Linked DNA regions of Homo sapiens: region 2 is linked to region 1. The links come from fine-mapping of genetic effects on gene expression. A gene starts in region 1. The other region holds a variant in brackets. All regions are shown on one strand. Distances are from middle to middle.

What was found. PIP is the estimated chance that this variant, and not a neighbour inherited with it, causes the effect.
Region 2: its variant is fine-mapped to the expression of MYCBP in whole blood (INTERVAL, PIP 0.96).

Annotation. Positions count from the first base shown.
Region 1 is chr1:38,870,530-38,875,907 of GRCh38, forward strand. MYCBP (MYC binding protein) reads right to left here and starts at 2,819. Exons shown (of 5, transcript NM_012333.5): 1 at 2,762-2,819; 2 at 2,489-2,561. The coding sequence starts at 2,776. It overlaps GJA9 (gap junction protein alpha 9), which reads right to left. Exons shown (of 2, transcript NM_030772.5): 2 at 3,540-5,378. The coding sequence ends at 4,022. The region is part of intron 1 of RRAGC-DT (RRAGC divergent transcript); the gene reads left to right. All of the region lies in intron 1 of GJA9-MYCBP (GJA9-MYCBP readthrough), which reads right to left. RefSeq lists an enhancer at 1,853-2,375.
Region 2 is chr1:38,909,759-38,915,136 of GRCh38, forward strand. It overlaps RHBDL2 (rhomboid like 2), which reads right to left. Exons shown (of 8, transcript NM_017821.5): 4 at 1,564-1,676. LOC105378662 (a long non-coding RNA gene) reads left to right here and starts at 3,782. Exons shown (of 2, transcript XR_001737994.2): 1 at 3,782-3,870. The variant C/CGT (reference allele first, on the strand shown) is at 3,205.

The DNA of each region.
Region 1 (5,378 bases):
ACGCCTGTAATCCCAGCACTTTGGGAGGCCGAGGCGGGTGGATCATGAGGTCAGGAGATCGAGACCATCCTGGCTAACAAGGTGAAACCCCGTCTCTACTAAAAATACAAAAAATTAGCCGGGCGCGGTGGCGGGCGCCTGTAGTCCCAGCTACTCGGGAGGCTGAGGCAGGAGAATGGCGTGAACCCGGGAAGCGGAGCTTGCAGTGAGCCGAGATTGCGCCACTGCAGTCCGCAGTCCGGCCTGGGCGACAGAGCGAGACTCCGTCTCAAAAAAAAAAAAAAAAAAAAAAAAAAAAACAAATAGAATTGTGTAAAGCACCTATGTTTGGAGCTGAAAATCAAATTTTTAATAAATCACATCAATACTGTGTTGGCTGATGTTATTTAGGAGCCTGGAAATCTAAGGAGATTGAGAGGTTAAATTCTAGTGGAGGGCGGTGGCTCACACCTGTAATCCCAGCACTCTGCGGGGCTGAGGTGAGCGGATCACCTGAGGTAAGGAGTTCAAGACCAGCCTGGCCCATGTGGTGAAACCGCCTCTCTACTAAAAATACAAAAAATTAGCTAAGCATGGTGGCACATGCCTGTAATCCCAGCTACTTGGAAGGCTGAGGCAACACAATCGCTTGAACCCGGAGGTGGAGGTTGCAGTGAGCCGAGATCATGCCGCTGCACTCCAGCCTGGGCAACATCTTCTGTGTAGTCAGTTACCGCCTACAACTGTCATTTTTCTGCCTTTTACCATTCAGTCTTTCACTTGCTCCATCCAACCACTCTGGCCTCCTTAGACTTCCTGAAACTCTGTTTCTTTCAGGTTTCTGGTCAAAAATTACTTCTTAAGAAAGGCCTTCCCCCCATCACCCTATATAAAATGACACACACATCCCACCTGTCACTTTTTTTTTTTTTTTTTTTTGGAGACAGAGTGTCACTGTTGCCCAGTGGCACAATCACAACTCACTGCAGCCTTGACCTCCTGGGCTCAGGTGATTCTCTCACCTCAGCCTCCACAGTAGCTAGATTACAGGCACACACCATGCCCAGCAATTTTTTTTTTTTTTTAAGAGATGGGAGTTTTGCCATGTTGCCCAGGCTGGTCTTGAGCTCCTGGCCTCTAGCAGTCCACCCACCTCAGCCTCCCAAAGTGCTGAGATTACAGGCATGAGCCACGTGCCTGGCCTCACCTGTTACTCTTTATCCCTAACTTTGCTGTATTTTTATCTGTACCACTTACCACTAGCTGACACTACATATTTATTTATGTATTTCTCTCCCTCAACTAGGATATAAGCTTATGAGAGCCGAGACTTTTATCCTCCCCTGCTTATCTCCAGTGTGCAGAACAGACACCTGAGTAAAATTATTAAATGAAAGAAATGAACGTAAGGAGTTTTTAGACGGAATGACATTCAAAGCATCTGTGACACTTTCAGAGACAACATAGCACAGTACTTTCACAGAGTAGTCCCTTAAGACTTGCTGAAGTTTATTTGCAAAGAGGTAAACTATTATCTGAACCCCAAATAGGTAGCAATTCAAAATTACTAGCCTTCTTTCTTCTAAGACCCAGGAGTTATGCTCCTAGAATTTTCCTCTAAACTTTGCTTCTGTCCAAAGGGCAGTTACCAATTTATTTCCCACTTCCCAAACTTCCTAGTTTCATATGACCCAAGTCCTCATCCCTGCGAACAATTCCATTCTACACCCTTGAATATCCCAGTGAGTTGAGTGACACATAGCAGGCATTCAAATTAGTGCTAAGCCAATAAAGTAAACTGTACCCTACCCCTTGAAATCCTCCTGTTTCCAACACTTTACTCATCTACTTAACTTAGATCTTGAAGCCACGAATGAAGAGATACAGCGTTAACAGTAAGCTTTCATTTTAAAAAGTGAAAACAATGTAACCACCTTGATATGCCCTCGAGCTCTTTAAGCTGTAATTCTACTTTATGAAATATACACAAAATAAGAATTGACACAGACAGACTAAGGAATGGGGGCTGAAAAGCCACAGCCAAATTCGCTATGAATCTCCTACTTTGGGGATTAGGCTCACTCAGCTACTTCATAGCCCACTTGGAAATTCGGTCATTTTTCCAGTTGCTCTTTGTTGGAGGGAAACTTTCTTAACAAGATTCTGAGGACTCCATAAAAACCGTAAGGTGGGAGGAATTGGGATCTGAAGGTCCTTGGCAAACATGTCCACTGCGGCTGCTGGAGGCAAAGCAACGGAAGTTGAAGAGACTTTGCAACAGCTGCAAGAGTTTCACTCCCGGTGCGGAGAAGGGTAGCGGAGCTAGGCTACCCCACCCGGGCGGCGTCCAGCAGCCAGGTCCCTGCTGAACCCCGAGGCCCACCTCGCTGGACCCCGGACGGGCCCCATCTGTTTCCCCTCCTTCCCCACGCTACGGCCCGCTGGGGAACGGGGCAGCGCCGGGGAGCACGACGAGGGCACGAGGTACCCTCTCCTAGCCCAGGCTCACCCTTGGTCAGCGTGTCCAGCACCCCCGACTTCTCCAAGTACCTCCGGAACTGCTCACGCTTCGAGTCGGCGGCCTGAAGAGACACCGGGGGTCAGTGGCCAGAGCCCGGGAGCCGAGCAGGAAGAAGGCGCTGGGAGTCCGGCAACCCCGCCTCCGCCTCACTACCTCGGGGCCCTCCCGCCCAAACCTGCGCGCGCGACCCCACTCCCACCCAGAGCCGACCAGCGGCTTGCTACCGCCCGCATGCCCCCAGCCACGCCGCGCCCCCCTCACTTTGTAATGGGCCATAGTGACAGCGGCAGCGGCGTAGCTGGCGCCGGAGACCGCGACTGGCGGGTTGGGAGCAGCACTGCTCATGCGCGGAAGGGGGCGCGCGCCTGCGCACTTGCAAACCACCGGCCGGGATCGCCGAGGTGTGGCCTGTTTTCATGGCGACCAGGACGCTCTGCATCCCCAGTAGCAGGCTGAGCCGAGGGAGGCTGCGTATGCCCGCCCCTCTGGCTGTCGGAGCCGCACCTCTTCCTCTTCCGGCCCCCGTAGCAATTAGGTTTCTTTGCAGGAGGTGAGATTTTGGTACCTCTGTCCTGGCGTCCGGAGGCAGGGCCCGGGAGCATTGAGACTATTGCGAGAGAAAGGACCGCCGCACGGTGGTAGCGAGCGCATCTTTTTCATCTGGGACCTCGGAAACTGTGGTGACCCATAGGTGCTGGGCTTCTTGGCTCTCGTCCTGAGAAAGTGCTCACAGTGCTTTGCAGTAGCCGAGGAGGGTGTTTAGAATCATATATTTTGGCTTCAGCTTTTATCTTTGGAGTCTCCTTGAGTCGTGGCTGACTTGATGTGGGCCTCTGGAGGATGAGCAGTAACGAGCTTGCAGTAGCTTTTGAGCCAGGCACTGTAGAAAACACGGGTATTTTAAATTTTAATCCTTACAACACCCCTGTAGGGTGGGTATTGTTAATTAAGTGGAGTGGTTAGATGTCCAGTGAGTAGAGTCGAGTCCAATCCGGGCAATGAATCACGATGCTATGAACTGGTGAAGGAAAGCCACGGATCTTCTTAAGATTTTATTTACTAGGTAGCAACATGTGATTATACTCAAGACACATCAGGATGCCAGTCTAGAAGGAAACTTACGTGATTGTGTTCCAGGGGCAAACAGAATTAACCCAGTGTCCAAGGTGGAATTGTATAGATCAAGAACCATTTCCTAAGGCTGTGGTCTCTTCAAAGAGAAAACCTGATCAAACCATTTAGCCTCAATTCTGAACATGTGATTTTCCCAAAATCAGTTACATTCGAAAGGATATCATTTAAAAAAAAAAAAATCCTGATTTGACAACTCTATGTCTTTGAATTTAGAAGTGTTGCTTCACAATCTCGAATTAGAGCTGTTTTTCTCTTGCTTAAATGAGTTTGCAGTTGTCTGTCTTAACAGCTGGTCTTTAGAGCTGCCCCTATCTATTTTTTCTGTGCCCCACGACCACTAGGCTACTTCTCTGATAATATATATAATGTCTAAAAGCCAACCGCTGTTTAGATCTGAAGATCTGTGGGAACCCGCCTACCAATGAGATTGTTCGTTAGGGACACTACGTGATTTGGAGGACAAACAGGATTATTACAGGTTCTGACCAACCCTGGCTCAAAGGACAGCCCTCCCAAAGAATCAGCAGTGTTTGGAATGTCAAGTGATTGAGAATCTCCTTGTGAAGGAGGAAGGGTTCTGACTGTGCCCTTTCTGAACTGGCCCTTGAGGTTACCTTTAGGAGGTGACCCCCGGTTTTCATGTTCTGTAGAGGAACCCCATGTAGCTCTAAGCCACCGCGGTTTCCAATCGCAGTTAGCTGGCAAGGAGAAAACTGTTTGGGGTGACTGCCTCATGTTGTTCTCTCCATCTATAGCAACACCTGGAATAGAACGGTGACCTCTAGAGTAGTAGTTCCTTTTGCTGTCTTTGCCTTCAGTTTCTCTTTTTTCCATTAACTGGTTACCATTAAGTTCTTTTCCAAATATTTTATGAGTGTCTTTGTTATTGTTTGAACTGATGTGTTGAAAATGACTACAACTAGTACTAAGTGTGGAAATCTCATTAGAAAGTACAGTTTCCTGTTCATCCAAAATGCATTTCTCATCATTTACACTATGATTGTCAGGATTTGGCTGGAATACAGAAGATGAATTTAAACTAGGGTACACTGCAGTGTGTGTTTGCTTTTCCACTAACAGATTATAATCAGGGGCAGAAGGGAGTCGCTTCAGTGAATTTGCAGATGTGCTCTGGTATTTGGCTACATTTTGTTTTGCCTTGTTTGCATGGAATTCATTATGTTCCTTCTTCAACTTGTATTTTCCCCAAAGCCCTCTTTTAATCTTTTTAAAACCTAGGTGGAAAATTTCAAGAATGTTTAAGAAAAGTGAAATAGTGGCTATAGATTGCATAAATAATAGGAATATTGTCTTTTCTGTTGGTCTTGAGACAAAACAGTCGATTATATTTGGACACGGGTGGCCATGGCACTTAAATAGCGGCTCTAAGTGAAATCCATATAAAAGGTACTGTCCAATCATGAATCCAACTTCAACCACAGAGCGAGTGAAAATGTGTATCACATAAGTGCAAAGCAAGGTTCCTCTGAGTGGAGCTTTATTTAGTTTCCTTTTCTCCAGCTGACAAAGCTCTTGCTCCAATCTCCTCCGATCCCTAGGCATTTCAAACTCTACCTCCTCCAGTTCTACTCTTAACTGAGCTTTCATCCTTTGCCTCTCTTCCTCAAGAACTCTCAGTCGGTACAATGCATGGCCCATGTAGACCAGGGATGGTGAAGACACAAATATCACCTGCAGAACCCAGTATCTAATGAGGGAGATAGGAAAGGCCTGGTCGTAGCAT
Region 2 (5,378 bases), 39 kb after region 1:
GAATTAAATTAAATTAAATTAAAAAATAAAATATGCCACTATCATATGTTCCAACAACTGTGCCTTTGGACATTTATCCTAGAAAACTGAAAACTCTGTTCACAAAACCCCATACTTATATTCATAAAAACATATACACAAGTGTTTGGAGTAGTGTTATTCCTAATAGCCAAAAACTGAAACAACTCAGATAACCTTCAATGAGTGAATGGTTAAACAAGCAGTGCTATATCCATTTTATGGAATGAATACTGGGCAATAAAAAGGAATAAACTATTGACACATGCAACAACCTAGATGAATCCCCGGAGAATTATGCTGAGTGAAGAAAATCAATCCCACAAGGGTATATACCGGATTATTCCATTTATATAATATTCTTCAAATGACAAAATTATAGAAATGGAGAACAGGTTAGTGGTTGCCAGAGGTAAAGGAGGGTGGGACAGAAGATGGTATAGCTATAAAAAGGCATCATAAGGGATCCATATGGTTTGAAAATGTTTTGTACCCTGACTATATCAACGTGGATATCCTAGTTGTGATACAGTACTAATGTTTTGCAAGATGTCACCATTGGGGATCGCTGGTTTAAAGGGTACATAAGACCTCTAGGCATTATTTCTAACAACTGCATGTAAATCTACAATTATCGCAAAATTAAAAGTTTAATTTTTTAAAAAAATGTTTCCAATAAATAAACAAATGGATGGATGGGAGTTCTAATATTTTCTTCCCATGCCATAATGGATCATCTTAGGCACACCCAGATTTAGGGATCACTGACGTATGCTACTTTTACCTACCCAGTCTTAGAGCCCCTTTGGTTATTCTCTACATTCTCTTAAAGTTGTCTTTCTTAAATGCAAATCTGATCATGTTACTTCTCAAAATCAGTAGTCTGACATATAAGGGCCTCCATGATCTGGCTTTAGACCTTTACTCAAATACGTACCTGTACACCAAACTACTTGCAGTTTTCTTTATTCCTTTTCTTTTTTTTTTTTTTTTTTTTGTTTGTTTGTTTGTTTGAGACAGAGTCTCGCTCTGTTGCCCAGGCTAGAGTGTGGAGTGCAGTGGCACAATCTTGGCTCACTGCAATCTCCGCCCCCTAGGTTCAAGTGATTCTGGTGCCTCAGCCCCCTGAGTAGCTGGGATTATAGGGGTGAGCCACCACCCCCAGCTAATTTTTGTATTTTTGGTGGAGAGAGGGTTTCACCATATTGGCCAGGCTGGTCTCGAACTCCTGGCCTCGTGTGATCTACCCACATCAGCCTCCCAAAGTGCTGGGATTACAGGCAGGAGCGCCAGGCATACTTGCAATTTCAATTATGCAAAACCCTGTCTTGAGTGTGAGATACCTGAGGACAGGCACAATGACTTGTCTTTGCTTGCTGATAGTATCTCTAATTCAATGATCTCTAAGGCTTAATGTGTTCCCGAGCACATATTAGGAGTGCAGTAAACCTTGACTTAAAGAAGCCTACTATAAGTGTGTATTTCATTTGCTTTTAATCCTAAGAGCCCAGAGGTATTGATTCTGTGTTACCTCAGAACACTGACCTGCAATCACTCCTGCCAGGTACACCAGCCCCACACGGAGGCCTTTGTGGACCATTTCCAAGGGAATACCCAAAACAAGCTGCATACAAAGATTCCCCAAGATGTGCTGAACTCTGCAAAGACAAACAATAGTTGTCAAATATTATGACTAAACCAAGCAGTTATTTCCCTGGGAGATGAACAGACTTTCATGTGTTTTCTCTAGTTAAGGATTTGCTTAACTAGAATTCCATTTTCTAATTTTTCTTCGCAGACAACTCTTTTTTTCTTTTTCTTTTTTCTGTGTGTGTGTGTGTGTGTGTGTGTGTGTGTGTGTGTGTGTGTGCGCGCGCGCGCGCGTGTGTGACTTGCTGTGTCTCCCAGCCAGGGGTGCAGTGGTGCAATCTCTGCTCACCAGAACCTCTGCCTCAAGGGTTCAAGTAATTCTCATGCCTCAGCCTCCCAAGTAGCTGGGACTACAGGCATGTGCCACCACTCCTGGCTAATTTTTTTTTCTTTTTTTTTGGACGAAGTCTCCCTCTGTCGCCCAGGCTGGAGTGCAATGGCATGATCTTGGCTCACTGCAATCTCTGCCTCCTGGGTTCAAGCGATTCTCCCGCTTCAGCCTCCCTAGTAGCTGAGATTACAGGTGCCTGCAACCACGCCCAGCTAATTTTTTTTTTTTTGGTAGACGGAGTTTTGCTCTTGTTGCCCAGGCTGCAGTACAATGGCATGATCTCGGCTCACTGCAACCTCCACCTTCTGAGTTCAAGCGATTCTCCTGCCTCAGCCTGCTGAGTAGCTGTGATTACAAGCATGCGCCACCATGCCCAGCTAATTTTGTATTTTTAGTAGAGACAGGGTTTCTTCATGTTGGTCAGGCTGGCCTCAAACTCCTGACCTCAGGTGATCTACCTGCCTCAGCCTCCCAAAGACTGGGATTACAGTAGTGAGCCACCATGCCCGGCCTAATTTTTGTATTTTTAGTAGAGATGGGGTTTCACCATGTTGGTCAGGCTGGTCTCGAACTCCTGACCTCATTGATCCACCCGCCTTGGCCTCCCAAAGTGCTGGGATTACACGCATGAGCCACCGCGCCTGGCCCGTTTTTTTTTTTTCTTGAGACAGGGTTTCACTCCCTTCACCCAAGCTAGAGTGCAGTGTCTCGATTTCGACTCACTACATTTCCATCTCCTGGGCCTGAGGATTCCTTAATCGTCCCACCTCAGCCTCCCCAGCAGCTGGGACTACAGGCACACACCCTGTGCAGATCTAATTTTTTATTTTATTTTATTTTTTTGTAGAGATGGGGTTTTCACCGTGTCACCCAGGCTGGTCTCAAACTCCTGGGTTCAAGCAATCCATCCACCTCAGCCCCTCAAAGGGCTGGGATTACAGGTGTGAGCCACTGCTCCTGGCCACAGATTCTTTTTAAGTGCCTTACTATGTGTTAGGCACAGTGAAAATTATAGCCATTATCTCATTTAATCACAACAACTTTATGAGGTAGGTACTATTCATATTACTCCATTTTACACCTGAGGAAACTAAAGGACAAGGAAGCTAAGTAACTACCATATACCATATATATATATATATATATATATATATGTGTGTGTGTGTGTGTGTGTGTGTGTGTGTGTGTGTGTATTTACATATACA[C/CGT]GTGTGTGTGTGTGTGTGTGTATTTTTTTTTTTTTCTTGAGACAGAGTCTCACTCTGTCACCCAGGCTGGAGTGCGGTGGCGCGATCTCGGCTCACTGCAACCTCCACCTCCTGGGTTCAAACGATTCTCCTGCCTCAGCTTCCCAAGTAGCTGCGGTTACAGGCACCTGCCACCACGCCCAGCTAATTTTTGTATTTTTACTAGAGACGGGGTTTCACCATGTTGGCCAGGCTGGTCTCAAACTCCTGACCTCAGGTGACCACCTCAGCTTCCCAAACTGCTGGGATTACAAGGCATGAGCCACTGCACCCAGCCTACTATATACTATAATACTGTACTGCCTTACATTGCTATTTAACTGACATGTTCCTTCTTATCATCTTAAAGTCCTTGTGTGCGGGAGCCATGTTTGCTCAGAACATACTTGTTAAATGGAAACTGAGCAGTTGGTGATTTTGCCCCTGATTTGTCAAGCCTCTGAGCCATGTGTCCTGATGCCTATTTAGCCACTAAGCAAAAGTGTCATCCTTTCTATTTTATTTTTTATTTATTTTTAACTTTTTTTTTTTTTTGTAGAGCACTCTCTATGTTGCCCAGGCTGGTCTCAGACTCCTGGACTCAAAGCGATCCTCCTTCGTCAGCCTCCCAAGTAGCTGGGACTGCAGGTACACATCACCACACCCCAGCTACAAGTCGTTTTCAAGTCCAGAGTTGGGTAGACTGCACAGAAAAGGTTGGCCCCACCTGAGACCACAAGAGTCCACCGGATAGGTGGGGCCAACAGGAAGCTGCTCGCTGTCTGCAGTGGGCATGGTGGATCATGGATGCTGAGTGAGTTCATGAAAGGCCATCGGCATTTAAGAAACTATAGGCGGCCGGGCACAGTGGCTCACGCCTGTAATCCCAGCACTTTGGGAGGCCAAGGCAGGCGGATCACAAGGTCAGGAGATTGAGACCATCCTGGCCAACATGGTGAAACCCCGTCTCTACTAAAAATACAAAAATTAGCTGGGCGTGGTGGCACGTGCCTGTAATCCCAGCTACTCGGGAAGCTGAGGCAGGAGAATGGCTTAAACCAGGGAGCCAGAGGTTGCAGTGAGCCGAGATCGCACCACCGCACTCCAGCCTGGCGATAGAGCTAGACTCTATCTCAAAAAAAAAAAAGAAAGAAAGAAACTGTAGGCAAAACTAAATGGCGGGCACTGCATCTCCTATTACCAGTATTATTCCAGATGGATAACAGTATCCCACACTCATCAATATGTTCATGAACTAAATTTATTTTATTTTATTTTTGAGACAGAGTTTCACTCTGTCACCTACTCTAGAATGCAGTGGCGCGATCTCGGCACACTGCAACCTCCGCCTCCTGGGTTCAAGCAATTTTATTGTCTCAGCCTCCTGAGTAGCTGAGATTACAAGCGCATGCCACCACGCCCAGCTAGTTTTTGTATTTTTAGTAGAGACGGGGTTTTACCATATTGGTCAGGCTGGTCTTGAACTCCTGACCTCAGGTGATCTATCCACCTCAGCCTCCCAAAGTGCTGGGATTACAGGTGTGAGGCACTGTGCCCGGCCATGAACTAAATTTTGTTTGATGTATGATGGTGGAGGAGGAGACTGGTTATTCAGCACCACCATTTTCATAGCCTAAAGAGTATATTTAACAACATTAGACAACTAGGGGAACATGCTTTTGGTTTTGCAATGATTTGATCTCTTCTCATTAATATTCCTAAATACTAATATTGGGCAGTTATAATGCAATATAAAGTATACTGGCCTTAAGGGCACAGTGGCTCACACCTGTAATCCCAGCACTTTGGGAGGCCAAGGCGGATGGATCACCTGAGGTCAGAGTTCAAGACTAGCCTAGCCAACATGGTGAAACCCCGTCTCTACTAAAAGTATAAAAATTAGCCCGGCCTGGTGGCAGGTGCCTGTAATCCCAGCTACTCAGGAGGCTGAGGCAGGAGAATCGCTCCAACCCAGGAGGCGGAGGTTGCAGTGAGCCGAGATCACACCACTGCACTCTAGCCTGGTGACAAGAGCGAGACTCCATCTCAAAAAAAAAAAAAAGTAAGAAAGGATGCTGGCCTTAGAGTTAGCACTAGTGGGCTGAGGTCCTAGCTCTGCAACTTAGCTGTGTGACTTGGAACAAGTGACTACATCT